Linked DNA regions of Homo sapiens. The protein of the gene in region 3 interacts with the protein of the main gene of each other region in a biochemical or structural test. Each region holds a gene or a part of one and is shown on either strand. Other genes may lie near its edges. The genes, in order: RPS6KA1, CRHR1 and GOPC.

Evidence for each region.
Region 1: the proteins of GOPC (region 3) and RPS6KA1 interact in a test that uses a peptide from one of them, tested with the Homo sapiens proteins (2 studies listed by BioGRID and IntAct, with this or other methods).
Region 2: the proteins of GOPC (region 3) and CRHR1 form a complex in vitro, tested with the Homo sapiens proteins (2 studies listed by BioGRID and IntAct, with this or other methods).

Annotation. Positions count from the first base shown.
Region 1 is NC_000001.11:26,532,725-26,536,472, reverse strand, and holds part of RPS6KA1 (ribosomal protein S6 kinase alpha-1), read right to left. Parts: intron 1-3,748. UniProt on the Homo sapiens protein: Serine/threonine-protein kinase that acts downstream of ERK (MAPK1/ERK2 and MAPK3/ERK1) signaling and mediates mitogenic and stress-induced activation of the transcription factors CREB1, ETV1/ER81 and NR4A1/NUR77, regulates translation through RPS6 and EIF4B phosphorylation, and mediates cellular proliferation, survival, and differentiation by modulating mTOR signaling and repressing pro-apoptotic function of BAD and DAPK1.
Region 2 is NC_000017.11:45,815,297-45,819,044, reverse strand, and holds part of CRHR1 (corticotropin-releasing factor receptor 1 isoform 2 precursor), read right to left. Parts: intron 2,583-3,748; coding exon 2,463-2,582; intron 1-2,462. Other genes in the region: LINC02210-CRHR1 (CRHR1-IT1-CRHR1 protein), read right to left, coding at 2,463-2,486.
Region 3 is NC_000006.12:117,600,277-117,604,024, reverse strand, and holds the start of GOPC (Golgi-associated PDZ and coiled-coil motif-containing protein), read left to right. Parts: upstream 1-1,513; 5' UTR 1,514-1,736; coding exon 1,737-2,021; intron 2,022-3,748.

The DNA.
Region 1 (3,748 bases), on a different chromosome or scaffold from region 3:
GAAGGAGACAAAGTCTGGGAAAGCATGCAACCCAGAGATGGTGGCTATCCTTGCCCTGCCCCACTCTGGGACCCCTCCCCTGACCTTGCCAGGCAGAATGACTGCTGCCTCCACTTCAGCCTTCATTGTAGCACTTGTCCCACTGCAGGGACTATTTACACACAGGCCTGCCCTTCCTAATAAATGGGGAGTCCCACGAGGGCAGAGACGAGGGCTTGGGGCTAACAGCTGCTCTCTTCCAAGCCTCTGCCACATGGCAGGCACTGGGCTCAGTGCCTCGCACCTGTGGCACCACTTTTTTTTTTTTTTTTTTTTTTTTTAGACAGAGTTTTGCTCTGTTGCTGAGGCTGGAGTGCAGTAGTGCAATCGCAGCTCACTGCAACCTCCGCCTCCCAGGTTCAAGCGATTCTCCTGCCTCAGCCTCCCAAGTAGCTGGGATTACAGGCGTACGCCACCATGCCCGGCTAATTTTTGTATTTTTTTTAGTAGACACGGGGTTTCACCACGTTGGCCAGGCTGGTCTCAAACTCCTGACCTCAGGTGATCCGCCCGCCTCGGCCTCCCAAAGTGCTGGGATTACAGGTGTGAGCCACTGCGCCTGGCCCCTGTGGCACCATTTAATCCTCATGACAGCCCTGGGAGGTAGGCCCTGGCCCCATGTGGCAGAGAAGGAAACTGAGGCTCTGAGGGGACCTAGTGATGATGCCTATGGTCACACAACTGGTGAGTGGGGATTCAAAATCTGGTCCCAAATCCAGGAGGTGCTCCAAACAGGTCAGCTGAGAAACAGCCCAGAGCCCAGAGCCCCCCTCTGGTCAGTCTTGCCTTTTCCAGCCCCCAGACTTCACTCTCAGGTGGTTATTAAATATGCTGGGGTGTGTCAAACCCAGCCCATCTGTTTCCTGTGTGATGTGAGGCAAGTAACCTACCCTATCTGGGCGTTTGGAAGCTGAAAGAAATTGCCCCACCCCTCCTAGAACAGGGAGAGTGTGGTGAGGCAGACAGGAGGTTCCCAACAGCTAGGAAGGCCTGCTCTAGAACAGGTCTGGATCTGGACTTTGGAGCCAGGAGCTGGGTCCATGGGGCAGCTGTAGCCCTGCTTGGCTACAGCTGGGTAGGCACAGCTGTGCTCTACCCATTACATAATCTCCCTGCCCCTGGAACAGCTCCCCATTGCCACTCCCAGGACATCCTGCCCCCTGAGCCCCTTTAATGCCCCTAATCTCTCCCCAGGGGCCAAATGTTCTACAGGCCCCTCCATGCACACATCCATACACACACTGTCATCTCTCAGCAGCCTGGGGAGAAGGGATGGGTTGGTCAGGGCCCAGGGGCTGGGCTGTGGTAGGGATGCTTTTGTAGACTGAGCTCCACTTCACCCAGCATTCTAGACTCTTGACATAATTCCTGCAGATGATCAGAACAGCCTACCCACCAGCTCCCTGCCCCACAGCCTTCCCCACTCCAAACCCTCATCATTCCTAAAATCAAGTGCAACTGCTGCACTCAACTCACTCAGTCAACATTTGCTGAGAACCTTCTATGTACCAGGCCCCAAACCCCTCTGTGGCTTCCACTGCCTGTAGAATCAAGTCCCAGCTCCTTAGCATAGAAATCAAGGCCATCATCTTCAACTGCCCAGCACAATAACTAGGAATGTAGGTTTTGCAACCTGACCTTGTGGGTTCAAATTCTGGCTTCTACCACCTGCGTGACCCCTAGAAGGTTAGTTCATTTACTGGGGCTTCAGTTTCCTCATCTGTGAAATGCGGATCAAAGTAACATACCTCAATGGTGGCGGCAAGAAGCAAATGAAATAATGCCTATAAATATATACACCTGACATGTAACTGGCCTACAAACAATAGCCATTCTTATCATTGGGCCCTATTTTTGAGCTAAACTGAACAACCACAGACCCTGAAAACAGTCTATTTTATATCCCCAGCATTTGTATGGTGGCTCCCTCTACCAAGAAAGCCTTTCCTGCCTTGTCACTTTGGCAAACTCCTGATCTTTTATCAGGACTGAATTCAAATGTCACCCCTGTCCACACAGCCTCATGTTCTTTCCTCCCTCCTCTCTACCCCCATAACCTAAGCATGCTGCAGGTTAACTCGGGAAGGGGCCATGGCTTGTCCATCATCAACATCTTGGCACCCAGCCAGAGTCCAGCATGTGGTTTATCCAGTGAAAGTTCAACCCAGCAAAGACAGCAAGGAGGCCAGAGCAGGTTCTATTACTCCTATTTTTCAGATGAGGCTCAGGAGAGTTAAGGGACTCACCGAGGTCCCTCAGCAGGCAGGTGGCAGACATGTGACCATAACCCAAAGTCACGTGGCTGCAAGCCTACTGAGGGTGGGGAGGAAGGGGTAGGTGTACCTAGAGGTGTGGGTTTCTTGAGCAGTGGCCTGGATGACTTAGGGACCCCCCGCTCTAAGGCAGTCTGGCTGCCTCTACTCCCTGGATCTCTGGCTTGGGTGTCATTCTTATGGAACGCCAAACCTGTAAGAGTAAGGGAACAGGCAGCCCTGGAGAACAGACTGGTAGGGGGGTCAGGGGGGTTGTGGGGTGCTGGCTTCCCACTCAGAGCCTGGGTCCTGGGTCCGGGGTCATCTGCCCCTCTGGCCTGACTGCTGCATAGCAATCCTTGAAAGAACACAGCTGTGCAGCCACAAAGATACAGCCACTAATCCTAGCTCTGCCAGCCACTTATTCTGCCCTTGGGTCTGTCATATCACTTTTTATTTTTATTTTTATTTATTTTTTGAGACAGTTTCACTCTTTTGCCCAGGCTGGAGTGCAGCGGCGCAATCTCAGCTCACTGCAACCTCTGCCCCGCTGGGTTCAAGCAATTCTTCTGCCTCAGCCTCCCAAGTAGCTGGGAATATAGGCCGCACCACCACACCTGGCTAATTTTTGTATTTTTAGTAGAGGCGGGGTTTCGCCATGTTGGCCCAGCTGGTCTCAAACTCCTGACCTCAGGTGATCCACCCGCCTCAGGCTCCCAAAGTGCTAGGATTACAGTCATGAGCCACCACGCGTGGCCTCATATCACTTTTTGAAGTCTCAGTTTCGGCCAGGCGCAGTGGCTCATGTCTGTAATCCCAGCACTTTGGGAGGCTGAGGCCAAGAGGCCTCACAGATCACGAGGATCACGAGGTCAAGAGATCGAGACCATCCTGGTCAACATGGTGAAAACCTGACTCTACTAAAAATACAAAAATTAGCTGGGCATGGTGACACGGGCCTGTAGTCCCAGCTACTCAGGAGGCTGAAGCAGGAGAATCACTTGAACCCGGGAGGTGGAGGTTGCAGTGAGCCGAGATCACGCCACTGCACTCCAGCCTGGTGACAGAGCAAGACTATGTCTCAAAAAATAATAATAGTAATAAAGTCTCAGTTTCCTCATCTGTATCACGAGGGCAGGTGTGTCTTGCTGACATCTGCACTTTGTTGTCTGAAATAGTACTTATCACCTAAGTGCTAAATAAATGACTGAATGGGGACAATGGTGCTGACCTTGCAGAGTACTGAATGAAGGACTTTGTCTTAGGAGTCCTTTGGCCTCTTAGAGGTTGAAGACCCACACTCCTCCCTCTTCCTCAGAGAGCACTGCTCATGAGGACAGATGCCCAGGGCCCCAGACCACTGCCCCCAGTTCTGAGATGTCAGAAATGGGTTCCAACTGGCATCATTCCTTCCCACCCAAGCAACTCTGTCTTAGAAAGAGGGGCCCAGGGCAGCG
Region 2 (3,748 bases), on a different chromosome or scaffold from region 3:
GGGAGAGTCAGGAGTCCCATCAGAGGCTGGGTCACCCAGAGGGAGCAGGCTTTGATGGGGAGAAAGGAGGTGATCCGAAAGAAAGCAGGCCCAACAAGCAGGGAGCCGTTGCCAGGGAGGATGCGACCTCCTTGTCTTTAATTGCTGAGCTGAGCAGTCCTCCCAAAGAATCACGGGAAAATAGATATTTTTGGAAATGCTTCCCATCCCTTTGAAGATCAGATGCAGCAGGAGGGAGGGCATTAGGGAGAAGGCCTAGAAGTCCTGGCAGCAACTCATCAGTAAATGGATTAATTAGTGCTTAATGATGAGGTGCAGCTCTGGGTACCCACTTGTGACTGACTGCACGGGCGTGCTCCACCTCATCTGGCGCTGGAGGCACCTGGAAAGGGGTCTTCCAGCCCTGCCCTCACAGACTGACCCCATGTCGAGAGGCCATCACCCCAGCTCCTTTCCTGGGATCACAGAGGGAAGTGCGGGGGAGCCTAGAGAGCACCACACTCAATCCTCCCACCCATTCTGCAGGTGTAGAAACTGAGGCCCACAGAAGGTCTGTGCCAAGGGCTACTTAACCAGCTGCAGATGCAGCTGGAATGAGAACTTAGGACTCCTGACTGCCACTTCAGGCAGGGCCAGCAAGTGAAGTGTGTGCCCAGGCACTGAGGGCTGAAAATGTTTATCTGGAGCATGTCAAGTAACCCTTTGCAACGGGAGCAGAGGGAACTCATGGGGGGTGGCCAGGGCTGGCTGCAAAAGGTGACAGGGCCATGACCACAGACAGCCTGGCCGGCCCCACCCAGCAGCCTGAACACGGAGGCCACACAAGAGTGGGTTCCAAGTGAAGGAGTGACCAACTCAGATCTGAAACCTGAGGCTGGGCGGTGGCGCTGGGGAGTGGGGGCAGGTAGGCCCAGACACGAGGATCACTCTGGAAGTGGACATGACAGGAACTGGTGCCTCCTCCTGGAAGCTCCTCTGATGTGCAGATGCTGCCTCCTTCCTAGGGGCTCCAGAAGGACTCAGCCCCCAGCATCGTGAGAGTTATCGTCCCTGGGCTGTGACCCTGCCTCCAGGCTCTGCGACCTCCGATAGGTTATTAGCCTCTCTGTGCCTCAATTTCCTTATTACAAAATGGGCCTGACTATATTGGGGGCTGGCCAACTGTGCACCCCTTGGACTGACCTGGCCAAGAGGCCCTTCTTCCTTTCTGCACTTCCTCCCCTTGGCCCCCAAGCCCCTCCCAGTGTGTCTTCTCCCTCTCCCGAGTCCCTCCCATGGCCAGGACATGGTACAGACACACGAGGCTGCTAGATCTGGCTGCCCCAGCCTCCTGCCCTGCCCTGGCCTCCCAAGTCACTCCCTGGGGAGTCACTTTCTGGCTGGGTCTTCCTACTCCTCTGCTGTAGCCCCCAACCTTAACACCCCAAATCCATCTGGTAGAGGAAAGAGGGGCAGGAGAAGGAATCTGGGAGTTTTGAGCTGGAAGACATCTTAGAAGCCAAGCCATCCAGCCCTCTCCATCCTCAGATGAGGGGCTGAGGGCCAGATGAGGGGCAACAATGTGCTGGGAGGTCACACAGTGAGTCTTGGAGTAAACTACATGGTGTCTGGGCTCACCCCTGTGCCCTCTTGGGACTCTGAGTTCAAGACCACAAGGACCCAAGGGTGCACACAGGAGGCCCCAATTGCAGGGATCAGGCCCCCAGCCTCCCCTCAGGTAGGTTAGGGCTCCTGGCCCACAGCTGTTGCTCTCTTGATAAGCAGGGACCTGACTCATTGACAGGGGAGAGCAAATTAATTCTGAGAGTGGCAGGCGGAATAGCAGGGAGCTGCAAAGCCCGGCTCTGGGGGTTTCGGGCCTCCGGGGAGCCAGGTGTTTACATGAGGATCAAGTATCCGACGGACCCTGGGTCAACCCCGTCCTGCCCCACTCCACCTACAAATCCAGGATGCAAGTTGAGCCTGTGCCTGTGCATCTGAAACTCTGGGTCCCCTGCCTCCTGGCTGGAGGGCCCGGGGTAGGCCTCAGAACCTCTCGACTCAAGGTTCTTATCCACACAGCTGGGGCTCTGATGATTCCTGCCCTGCTTCATGGTATTACAGTAGGCTCAAACAGACTAACCTGAAGTTTAATGGCAGAAGAAAGTGCCAGACAGACGTGGATGCAAATTCCAGCTTCACCCCTTACCAGCTGCCAATGGGGCAAGTTCCCTAACCTCCCTGAGCCCCAGGGGCCTTAGTTATAGGAGGCGTGATAGTGTCTTGCAAGGGTATTGTGAGAATCACGAGTAATGAGCACAGGGCACCCAGGAGAATACAGCGCTGACCTTTGGAAAACAGGGGCGATCCCCACAAGAGGTATTACTGTTATTGTCATCGTCATTCTTCCTTCCCCCACCTCCAAGCTCTCCCCATCCTGTCCCACCTCCCAGCAGATGGTCCACCCTCCACTTCTTCCTTACTTGTGGTATTGTAGCGGACACCATAGAAAAAGGCAGGGCAGGGCCGAACCACTAGCTGCCCCGCAGGGCTGCGGGGCCAGCAGGTGCCAATGAGGTCCACGGATGCGTTGCACTGCAGTCCTGGGGGCAGAGACGGCTGGTAAGGCACAGCAAGATATCCGGCCAAGGCCCCAGGCAGGCAGAGGACATTCCAGAGTTCTGCCCACCTCCCCACTCGTTCCCACTCACACCAGCTAGGGACAGGATGACAACAATGACCAGTGCAGAAATGAGCTCATCCTATGCAAAGAAGACACAAGGGGAAGAAATCTGAATCTGATGCTATGGTACTAGGGAGCCAGCATGGGTTCCAGAGCAGAGGAGGAAGAGAGATGGCTGGAGGTGGTGTTAAAAGCTAAGGTCCTGGCATTTAGAGGAAGCCTGGGCATGCTTCTGGTCCCCTGCTCTGTAGCCTAAGGACACTTCTCTTGGTCCCTCGCATGGTGACAGCCTGGAGCTCTGAGACATCACAGGAACACCCTGGAACAGACCCATCCAATCATTGACCTAGCCCCTCACGTCTCTGCAATCAAACCACATCTACCCTGGCCCTGCAGGGAAGAATCAGCTAAATGAAGTTGGCCCTCCTTCCGGCTGGCCTGTTCCTTCTTCCGGCTGGCCTGTTAACCACACTTACTGACCATACGTCACGTGTACTTTGTTCTGTGCAGGGCCCTAGGACAGGACTGATGGAGAAGTGAGCTATGGAGAGGAAAGGGAGGGAGACACCATCTGGGGGAGTGGAAAGGACACACTGAACTGGGAGTCTGGGCCCACTGCTTCAGAATGGGCTGTGCCACTAATTTGCTGTGAGATCATAGGCAAGTCACTTGCCCTCTCTGGGCCTTAGTGTCTTGTCTTCATCTATAATAAAATCAAGTGGTTGAACCAGATCAGAAATTCTTAATCTCAGCCCACTGGAAACTTCAACAGTTCACAGAGACCCTGAATGTAATGAAAATATTGGTGTATACATGCATTTTAATGGGGAAATGGGCCCACGGCTTTCATTAGATTCTCAAAGGGGTCTGTGACTCAAAGAGATATAAACATCTGAACTAGAAAGAAGATGTCAAAGTCCCCTTCCAAATATTTGCTTTTTGGAGGAGAGAGAGAGAGCACGCGAGAGAGAGAGGATGTTGGGGCAGAGTTGAGGCCCAGTGACACTTCAGGAGGGGAGGGTGGATATGGCCTCCAAAGGGTGGGGGCTGGCACAGTCCTGGCACCCCCCTGAGGCTGCCCCTTCT
Region 3 (3,748 bases):
ACAATGCAGGCTTTGGGTTGTGATTAACCGTAAGGGTCTGCCCCAAGAACAGATAACAGCAGACTGCACTCAGCTAAATATGCTTCTAGGTAATGCAGGAGTTTCCACCAGCCTACTCTAATCACACAGGTTTCTCTTTCCCTTTCTAGGACTGTCTACCCTTGAACTGGAAGTAGGCAGAATGTAAAGAGAGGAGTTGCTGGATACTTTTAAAGGCACTGAAAAATTCAAGTTAAAGTTATAGTTGAGGGGTAGTAGCCTCACTAGCCTATCTTGAGTAAGGGTCATGTCTCATTCATTTTTGTGTCTTCAATGTCGCAACAGAGCTCTGCATTCAATATATTTGTAAATATATGAATTCACAATTTTGATTTTCTGAAATGTCACGTGTGAGGACACTACCAGTTTTCAAATAAATACACCTTTTAAAGTACAGTTATGTGCCAAATAACAAGGCTTCAGCAATGAATGGATCGCATAAACTATGGTGATCCTATAAGAGTATATGACTGTACCTTTTCTATGTTTAGATATGTTTAAGTACACAAATAGTTACCACTGTGTTATAATCGCCTACCGTATCCAGAATGGCAACATGCTGTACAGGTTTACAGCCTAAGAGCAATAGGCTACATCATATAGCCTGGGTGTGTAGTAGGCTATACTATCTAGGTTTGTGTTTAAATACACTCTAGGATGTTCCCTAAGGGATGATTAACCTAAGGACACATTCCTAAGAACATATCCCCATCTTAAGTGAAGCACTACTGTAGTTGCTTTTGAAATGTGTGACCTATGGTGTATTAAGAGGAATACCGTGTGCCAAGAAGTGACGCTAAGCGTTTTACCTTACAACTGAGTTAAGTAAAATTTGGAAACTTGGTTTCGAGGTTAATACATGAAAGGCGACACAGGTAGTATGTGACAGAGGGTAAGAATTGAATCCAGGTCTACCTGACTCTTAATCACAAGACAAAAAGTCTTCTATTAATTCCGCAAAATCTGGTCAGCCGCTTCAATGCGCAGCTTTAGGCAGTCCACACCTGGAATTTGGGGTCTGGTTTACCAAGAACAGCCAGTGTGTACACCCACTCCATCCTATCCAGGAACTGGAATCGAGAAGGTAAAAACGTGGCTATTGCGCATGCTCACACCGCCCTTCCTTGCTCTCCCCTCCCTGACCCTAGATGCCACCGCAGCAACTTTCTGGGAGGATTTTGGAACGGCTCCCGCCAACTGTTAAGTCAAACCGGCGGAAATCCTTCCTTTCTGCGACGTGGACACCTTTCTCATCCTCGGGCCTTTCCAACCAGGGTGCAGAAACCACGCGCCTCCGTTTCTCAGGGATTCAAGCCGTAGTTTGCCAGTTGTTAATATGGCCGCTGACAGGCCGCTCCCAAGCTGAGGCCTTTCATAGGCCAAGATCGCATCCTGTCCCCGCCTATTTTGTCCCTCGTGGCTGCGTCCGCCCAGCTCTTCGCTACGCATGCGCAGCGGGGGCAGGCTGGGAGGTGGGACTGACTGAGTCTTCCGTGTGTCGCCGCCGTTGCCGCCTCAGCTTCAGCCTCGTTACTCCTGCGGTTCTGTGACTGTGCTGCTGGCGTTAACGGCGCGAGGTGAAGGGAGGTGACGGAGTGTGCCCGCGCGCGCGGGGGTCCCCTCAGTCCCAGCAGTTCCCTTCGTGCGCGGGGGGCGGCGAGGGTCTTCAGCAGTCGGGAGAGGCCCTTGACGGCGCCATGTCGGCGGGCGGTCCATGCCCAGCAGCAGCCGGAGGGGGCCCAGGGGGCGCCTCCTGCTCCGTGGGGGCCCCTGGCGGGGTATCCATGTTCCGGTGGCTGGAGGTGCTGGAGAAGGAGTTCGACAAAGCTTTTGTGGATGTGGATCTGCTCCTGGGAGAGATCGATCCAGACCAAGCGGACATCACTTATGAGGGGCGACAGAAGATGACCAGCCTGAGCTCCTGCTTTGCACAGCTTTGCCACAAAGCCCAGTCTGTGTCTCAAATCAACCACAAGCTGGAGGTGAGCCGTGGGTGCTGGCGGCTATGGCATCCAACCCCAGGCTGCCCGGTGGCGTCAGATGCCATTTAACGCTCCAGTGAAACGACCCTAGAAAACTGCCCACCGGGGCTTCAAATGTGATGGGAGAGTGCATGTCTGAGGAGTGAGGTGAGGGTGGGGGACAAAAAGGGCCCTAGACCGACGTGTGAGTTCCCGGGGTACTGTCGTCCACCTTCCTAGTATCTCTCTGAGGAGGAAACTAATTACATACACCAGCCTCCATTGCACATGTTACATTAACAAACCTAACAAAGATTCTCTGTCATGAAAATACCGTAGGCCACCTTTTGACAACTGAGTTTTGCAGATCTGCTTTCACATTGATAAACCGAATTTGTATATGTTAAGACAGATACAGCACTGATTATTTTCATTTTAATTATTCCAGGTCAGCGCCTATGATTGCATACAGAGACATGCATAAACTATTTAGGGGAATCTGATCAAAGCTCTTAGGAAAATTTCGTGGTGCATAACGATAGTATCACTGTCTCGGTTTACATCCATAGTTGGTTGTTAAATTACAGGCAGATACCTCCAGAGAGCTCCCTGCAATTATTGAAATTACTTCTGACCTTGAGTTTTTATATGCTTGTACATTACTGTGTAATTTTCCAAAGTCTGGATTTATTTTTGAGAGAGTGTAAAGAATCATTTGCTTTAATCTCTGATCCTGGGTGTGGGTGAGGGTGGAGTGGCTGTGGTTCAAAAAAACAAAAATATCATATTGTGCAGAAAATTTAAAAAGGACATTATTAAAATATTTAGAAATCAAGATAGATTAACATTATTGCATAAAGAGTACTTTCTAACTAGGCAATTTAAGAGAATGGGTCTTTCTTTTCAAAAAGTGTAATAGATAAAAATGGGATAATCAGTGATGTGCAAAACTCTGAACATGCTTTCCTAAGAAATCATCATTACTCGTTGTCATTGACAGTGCCCATTATATCTATATCAATATGAATGTCAGTTAAACATCCTCTCCTTGCCTAGTGGTCAGCATTCTTTCTCTCCTATTAGCCATGAAATATGTGGCATAATTAATCTTTGATTAACATAGATTTACATATCCAAGAATTGTGGCTCTTCTCCACTGCGAGAACTGTTAATTTCTTCTATCCTTTTTGAAAAGATTAGAAAGTGCTAATATGAAGGTAATCACTTCTTACTGTAGGTAAATGAAAACATCTCTTGATTTCTTTATTGGTAGTAATTTCCACAAGAAAGCTATTTTTCTCAGATAGTGAAATTGCATTTAATGTTTTCTAGAAATAGTACTTTAACTTTATTTCATCTTATTTTATCTTATTATATTTTTTTCAAAAAAGAGATGGAGTGCTTTGTTGCCCAGTTTGGTCTTGAATTCCTGGCCTCAGGTGATCCTCCTGCCTTGGCCTCCCAAAGTGCTTTGATTACAGACATGAGCTACTGTGCCTGGCCATTAGTTCTCTAGCTTTAAACAACAAAGATCAAGAGTAGCCTTTACCACATGGTATAATTCGAATGTGTCCCCCAAATTTCGTGTATGGGAAACTTAATCCTCAATGTGACAGTATTGAATCTCCAATGTGGGGCCTTTAAGAGGAGACTGGATCATGAGTACTCTGTTCTTATGAATGGATTAATCCACTTATAGATTGATTTGTTATTGGATAAATGGATGAATGAGTTATCATAGGAGTGTA